Homo sapiens: one gene and its partner. The protein of the gene in region 2 purifies or fractionates together with the protein of the main gene of each other region. This does not show direct contact. Each region holds a gene or a part of one and is shown on either strand. Other genes may lie near its edges.

Region 1 (3,552 bases), on a different chromosome or scaffold from region 2:
AATTTCCACATGTATAAAAAAAAAGAGAAGGGCACGGTGGCTCACACCTGTAATCCCAGGCTGAGGCAGGTGGATCACCTGAGGTCGGGAGTTCGAGACCAACCTAACCAACACGGAGAAAGCCCATCTCTACTAAAAATACAAAATTAGCCAGACGTGGTGGCGCATGCCTGTAATCCCAGCTACTTGGGAGGCTGAGGCAGGAGAATCGCTTGAAACCGGGAGGCGGAGGTTGCAGTGAGCCAAGATCACGCCATTGCACTCCAGCCTGGGCAACAAGAGCGAAACTCTGTCTCAAAAAAAAAAAATAAAAAATAAAAAGAACCAATTACCTAGAGGAGGGCCATATATATAACTTGGTTTGCTTTGAAACTCAAGACTGCTTCCCTAGGATATGGAATTCAAGCTGAATGAAAAGTTGTAGAGCTGGATGAGAATTTATTTCTCTCCGTGAAGGTATAATAGCATCACCCCTATAAGAAGATAAGCTCAAATACAACCAAAATTTCGATGCCCTACGCCCTGCCAGTAAGGGAGGAAAGCAGAGGTTACGATTTACAAGTAATTCTCTATGTGTTCTTTGGGAACCAGGATCCTCTGAGTCAATCCCTTCCAATCTCCTAAGTTTATTTTTAAAAATCTGAACCTGGCCACCACTTTACATGATGAGACTTAGAGACTGGTATCACAGCTTGATTTCAGAAGCTTACTTTCAAAAAAAATTTATTCAATGAATACACAATATAATTCCATTTCGAGTGATTAAAACCTATTTGTTGTTTAGAACCAAACAAAACTACAAGAAAACATTTTCAAAACCTTTTTTTTCAGGCTGAAGAAATCGTTTAATCCATTTTAAAGAAATCTCACATGATGTTCTGTCGGGATTAAAAATATACACGGAAAAAAATAAAACAAAATATATACACAGAAAGAAGCTCGCACAGAGTCAGGCGTGCAGCAACGTCACACACTCATTCCTTTCTGTTTCCTCTGGACACTCAAAATGTGAAAGCAAGTAAGAGGGGGGTGGTTAACCAAACCTTTTGGTCCAAGGAATAAAATTTCTTTAAAAAATTTAAAACGTCAAAACCTGCCAGAATAAGACAATAGAAGAGCGTATCGTCAGGCGCTGGGAATGGCACCACGACAAGGCATTAATGTGGATTCACTTGCACAGCTGCTCTCATAAAAGCTACACGATTCAGAGGTAACCCTAACTATCCGCAATCCCAACCAAAGTCATGTTCATGCCGCTGTCCTAGTCTGGACAATCATCTGTCACTCATCCAACACAGTTATATACAGAATGCGCAGTCCCAGCAACAGTGTAGATTACAGCAGGCGTTCTCTACCTGGACTCATGATTGGATTTCATTTCTAAATTACATCAGAGCTTTCAAAGATTGAAATACACAAATCTGCACTACCCAAGCCTCCTTGCCTGTACGGGAAACAAATCAGAAGAGCATTTATTGGGAACTGACACGTCAGGCCTCACAGGTGCTGGGCAGGAATCACAGAGGCTTGCTCTGCATCATGTCTTCCGTTAACCTGAAGCTTTGGGTTTATTGTGTTTGGCAAACCACTCGTCACTTTTATCTGCTGCCATTGCCTGTAAAATAGAAATAGAATATACACTGACTCCAAGCCTGAAAAACAAAAGACATAGCCCACTTTATATCTCACTGTACTGACCACAATAAAAAAAATTAACATTAAAAAAAGGACCCAAACCCCCGCTCCAAAAAAAAGAGAAGAGAAATAAAAAAAATTTTTTAACATTTAAAGAGTATTAATCCAGTACAGAGTGTTATGTTCAATAAGGCAAGAGATACTGGTGATAATGAGCAACTGTGGATCCTCACTCGGCAGAGTCAAGGGCAAACCAAGCCTGTAGCCAGGAAGTGTGGCTGGCGGACCAACGAGGTCAGGGACCCGCATGCCAGGCGGTAGGATCTCTGGTAAAAGAGCAAGTCCTGCCACTCACAGCATCTGGGCAGACGCTCAAGAATCTTTAGTGTCATGAAACTCAGTCTGATAGTGAGGCCAAATATGAAACTCTACGTGATGTTTTAGTGATGAAGCCTGGAATGATTCCTTTTTCGTAAGTCTCCTCCCGGCCTACTCTTCTGATGTTGGTTCTGTTTAGTTTGGGCATCTTAATTAAAAAGGAAGCCTTAAGCCGTGCCCAGTGGTCACACCTATAGTCACAGCCACTTGGAGGCTGAGGCCAGAGGATCACGTGAGCTCAGGAATTCGAGTTCAGCCTGTGTAACAGAGTGGGACCCCGTCTCATATACATACATACAGATACAAATAAAAATAAATGAATAATACAAAGCCTTAACAATAATGTTTTGGTTCCACAAGCATCCCTTTCGTTGTTTAGTAAGGACAAACACTCATTTATGTAGTCAAAAAGAGCCAGGTACCACGCTGGGTTCAGATGTGGCAGCAGAGACAGTCGGAAGCTTTGAGGAGTGTGCAGAACAGCTGAGAACTCAGATATGGAAACAAGTATTTTGCATGACAGAGTGTGTGTACGCATGTGTGTGTCTTGAAGCATTTGCTATAATATCTACCTCAGCAGGAAGTCACAAGATGAGGTGGCAATTGAAAAAGAAGAAACAAATATATTTATTATTTAGAAACAGTGAAGGTGAAAGTGGCTGTCCTAGGTAGTGTGACTCAGAGTTGGACCGTTTCATTTCTAAAAAATCTTAGTACTATCTGATTTATTATCTTGATGAAAATAAGAATTTAAAAATCAAAGATATGCTTAAAAAAACCACAAGTCACAAATATGCACGTTTCTGTCTTTTAGGAGCCATAAAAAGTGGGAGGAAAGAACAACTAAATTATTTGGAGAACCTAAGAAAGCTTTTTTTCTTTTTTGAAATGGAGTTTTGCTCTTGTCGCCCAGGCTGGAGTGCAACGGCGCCATCTCGGCTCACTGCAACCTCTGCCTTCTGGGTTCAAGTGATTCTCCTGCCTCAGCCTCCCAAGTAGCTGGGATTACAGGCGTACACCACCGTGCCTGGCTAATTTTTTGTGTTTAGTAGAGACAGGGTTTCACCATGTTGGTCAGGCTGGTCTGGGACTCCTGACCTCAGGTGAGCCACCCGCCTTGGTCCCCCAAGGTGCTGGGATTACAGGGGTGAGCCATCGCGCCCGGCTGAACCTAAGAAAGCTTTTAAGTGTTGAAGGACAAGTAAAAGAGGAGAGGGAAAAAACCCTTTGGGTTGGATGCAAGAAGAAGTATCTTAGCTAATATAACCAGTTCAGTGGGACTGGAATAGGGATGAGTTAGGGGACTTAGGGAGGCAGGTGGGAAAGAAGGTCAGAGGGTAGAGAATGTCCAAAAATGTCACATGCTCTGTCAGAGAGTTTGAAATTTATCTCAGAGGCAAGAGAGAGCTATCGGATTAAACGGTTTTAAAAATTACTGGCTGTTTGCTTTGGGACAGACCGTAAGTTGACAATGAGGCCTTTCAAAGGGAAAGCTGATAGGCAGAAGACATTTCAGAGGTAGAACTCACAGCTCTTGGT
Region 2 (3,826 bases):
ACTATGTTTAAGTGTTAGTTGAATAGTGTTAAGTATAGTCACATAAGTCAGTATACAGTTTTAAACAATGTATATAACAATATATATTAAACATAGGAATTTTGGACTGAATGTTTTTATCCCTCCCTCCCAATTTCTGTGTTGAAATCCTAACCCCCTTATGATGGTATTAAGAGGTCGGGGCTTTGAAAGGTCATTAGGTCATGGAGGTGGAGACTTCATGAATGGGATTAGTGCCCTTATAAAAGGAACCCCATAGAGCTCTCTAGCTCTCCTTCTGCCATATAAAGGTACAATGAGAAGTCAGCTGTCTGTGGCCCAGAAGAGTCCTCATCAGACCCTGACCAGGCTGGCATCCTAATCTCAGACTTCCAGCCTTTAGAATTGTAGGAAATAAATTTCTGTTGTTTATGAGCCACCCAGTCTATGGTATTCTGTTACAGGAGCCCAAACTAACTAAGGCTATATTATGCATATATTTAAGATCTTTTATATTTACCCACATATCTTTCTTCTCTAGTGTTTTTCATTCCTTTCCCAAGATCTGTTCTTCTGTTTGGCATCATTTTCCTTCACCTGAAGAACTTATTTTAGTATTAGTTATAATGCAGTTCTGCTGGAGACAAATTCTCTTAACTTATCAAGTCGGGTAAAAAGTTAGTAATTGTTTTCCTCCCTGCTAACTTGAGGAATTTAACAATTTTTGATAACCAAAGTCCCCTGGCATCTCTCTTACCAGTATTTATTATTGAAATCTGAGATTTTAAAGTTCAAATATTGTAATTTAAAGTATTATTTTTATATTTTCTTTCAAGATCAGTTTGGACATTTGCTTTTGGTTTGTAATCAAATTTAGAATTATTTGGACATATTTGGTGCTCATTTTATACAATTTTTCTAGATATTGAGTCTTTAATTTTGGTTCATCTGTCAACTGAATAGATCTTCAAATATTTATTTCAAGAGGAACATACAGTGACGTGTTTTCTAAGTCCATGCATATATGAGAATGTATTTTGTCACTCTTACACATGAACAAAATCATAAAATTGTTTAAATATTGCCCCACTTTTTTTCTGACATGTAGTAAGAAGTTGAGAGAGGCTATTCTATTTTTTTTAGACAGGGTCTTGCTCTGTCACCCACACTGGGGTGCAGTGGTGAGATCTCACTGTAGCCTTGACCTCCTGGGCTCAGGTGATTTCCCACCTTAGCCTCCTGAGTAGCTGGGACTACAGGTCCACACTGCCATAGCTGGCTAATTTTTTGTAGAGATGGGAGTTTTGCTCTGTTGCCCAGGCCGGTGAGAGCCTATTTTCATATGCATTTTAACCTGTATACCCCTGACTTAGAATTTTATATTGGCTATAGCCTTCAAAGTGGGGCTATATTCTTCAATATAAAAATAATTTCATACACCTTTTTTTTCTGTTGACTATGTGATTCTACAGAATGAAATTGATATTAACTAGAAACAATTGCAGCTATGACAATTTGGACAATATCTAAAGTTATTTAGTAAATAAGGAAATTCCCAGGGTTTGTAGAATCTCAGGGAAACTTTGTAATAAGTAAATAAATCTTCAGTCACTGTTAGACAACACACCTTGCCAAAGTCCAAATCATCTGTCAAGAAGGCCTTTGAAACTTTGTTCTCACTTTCTGTATCCACCACCGGCCTTTCCATCTCATTCAAAAATAAACCCTTACAATCTAGCAGGATAGTAAAAGCATTACTTATCTCACACCTGAAATGTCAGCTTGGAACAACTAGCTCTTGAGACACTGTCCCCTCCCAATCACTCTGTTGGACATTGCATTTTTGGCAGTAAATTTCTGCATTCTTATCCTTATCCTTGTGCTAGATCCTGTGGCTTTAATTATTTTAAGAATGATAATGATCCTATGCAACTCATGTCTTTCCTGCATCTTCAAGTAGCTTTATCAACCTACAACCTATTTCCTTCAAGATGATTTCTTCTTTATCTGAAGTTTTTTCTTGTGCTAAAGGCTGCCAAAGACGTATGTACTGTCTCCTGTTCTTCTACCTCTGCATTTAAATACCACTCATTTTAAATTAGCTGGCCATAGTGGTGCACACCCGTATTCCCAGCTACTGGGGAGGCTGAGGAGAGAGGATCACTTGAGCTTGGGAGATCGAGGCTGCAGTGAGCTGTGGTCACATTCCAGACTGGCTGGCAGAGTGACACTCTGTCTCAAAAATAATAAAAAATAATAATAAAAATAAATAACCCTCATTTTTACAACTATCCAAAAAAGTTTTAAGAAAGTCAAACACTAAGATACAATTACTCAAGCTTATACAATGAACAGAGGAAAATGAGCTCTTTCCTTAAGAAATTGTAGAAGCTGCATTACTTAACCTATGGTTCCTGGAACTTGGAATGCATAGCTTAGGCTTGTGGTCCCTGGACTAGTAGTTTGACAACACGTGGGAGCTTTTAGAAATGCAGGCTGTCAGGCCCCACTAGCTACCTACAGAATCAGAACCTTCACTGTAAGATCTGCTAAGGGTGGTATGCACATTACAGTAGAAGAAGCACTGGTGTCTGGAGCAGGGCTTCCCTCTAGGTGTGCCAGGGCACACACACAGGTGGGTGGGAATCAGTTGCAGGCATGCTGTCCAAGCTGTTTTCCTTGGCCCTCTTGACAGCAGGTGGGGCATGGACCACCTCCTGGTTGCCTCTGTAGAGAGTGGCTCCTCCTTTTTTTTTTTTAATTTTTTATTATACTTTAAGTTCTAGGGTACATGTGCACAACGTGCAGGTTTGTTACTTATGTATACATGTGCCATGTTGGTGTGCTGCACCCATTAACTCGTCATTTACATTAGGTATATCTCCTAATGCTATCCATGCCCCCTCCCCCCACCCCACGACAGGCCCCGGTGTGTGATGTTCCCCACCCTGTATCCAAGTGTTCTCATTGTTCAATTCCCACCTATGAGTGAGAACGTGTGGTGTTTGGTTTTCTGTCCTTGAGATAGTTTGCTCAGAATGATGGTTTCCAGCTTCATCCATGTCCCTACAAAGGACATGAACTCATCATTTTTTATGGCTGCATAGTATTCCATGGTGTATATGTGCCACATTTTCTTAATCCAGTCTATCATTGTTGGACATTTGGGTTGGTTCCAAGTCTTTGCTATTGTGAATAGTGCCACAATAAACATATGTGTGCATGTGTCTTTATAGCAGCATGATTTATAATCCTTTGGGTATATACCCAGTAATGGGATGGCTGGGTCAAATGGTATTTCTAGTTCTAGATCCCTGAGGAATCACCACACTGACTTCCACAATGGTTGAACTAGTTTACAGTCCCACCAACAATGTAAAAGTGTTCCTATTTCTCCACATCCTCTCCAGCACCTGTTGTTTCCTGACTTTTTAATGATCACCATTCTAAGTGGTGTGAGATGGTGTCTCATTGTGGTTTTGATTTGCATTTCTCTGATGACCAGTGATGATGAGCATTTTTTCATGTGTCTGTTGGCTGCATAAATGTCTTCTTTTGAGAAGTGTCTGTTCATATCCTTTGCCCACTTTTTGATGGGGTTGTTTGATTTTTTCTTGTAAATTTGTTTAAGTTCTTTGTAGATTCTGGATATTAGCCCTTTGTCAGATGGGTAGATTGTAAAATTTCTCTCCCATTCTGTAGGTTGCCTGTTCACTCTGATGCTAGTTTCTTTTGCTGGCAGAAGCTCTTTAATTTAATTAGATCTCATTTGTTAATTTTGGCTTTTGTTGCTATTGCTTTTGGTGTTTTAGACATGAAGTCCTTGCCCATGCCTATGGCCTGAATG

The links.
Region 1: the proteins of NNMT (region 2) and GLOD4 fractionate together in Homo sapiens (co-fractionation; one large-scale study listed by BioGRID). This does not show direct contact.

The regions. Positions count from the first base shown.
Region 1 is NC_000017.11:758,624-762,175, forward strand, and holds the end of GLOD4 (glyoxalase domain-containing protein 4), read right to left. Parts: intron 1,616-3,552; coding exon 1,550-1,615; 3' UTR 707-1,549; downstream 1-706.
Region 2 is NC_000011.10:114,302,616-114,306,441, forward strand, and holds part of NNMT (nicotinamide N-methyltransferase), read left to right. Parts: intron 1-3,826. UniProt on the Homo sapiens protein: Catalyzes the N-methylation of nicotinamide using the universal methyl donor S-adenosyl-L-methionine to form N1-methylnicotinamide and S-adenosyl-L-homocysteine, a predominant nicotinamide/vitamin B3 clearance pathway.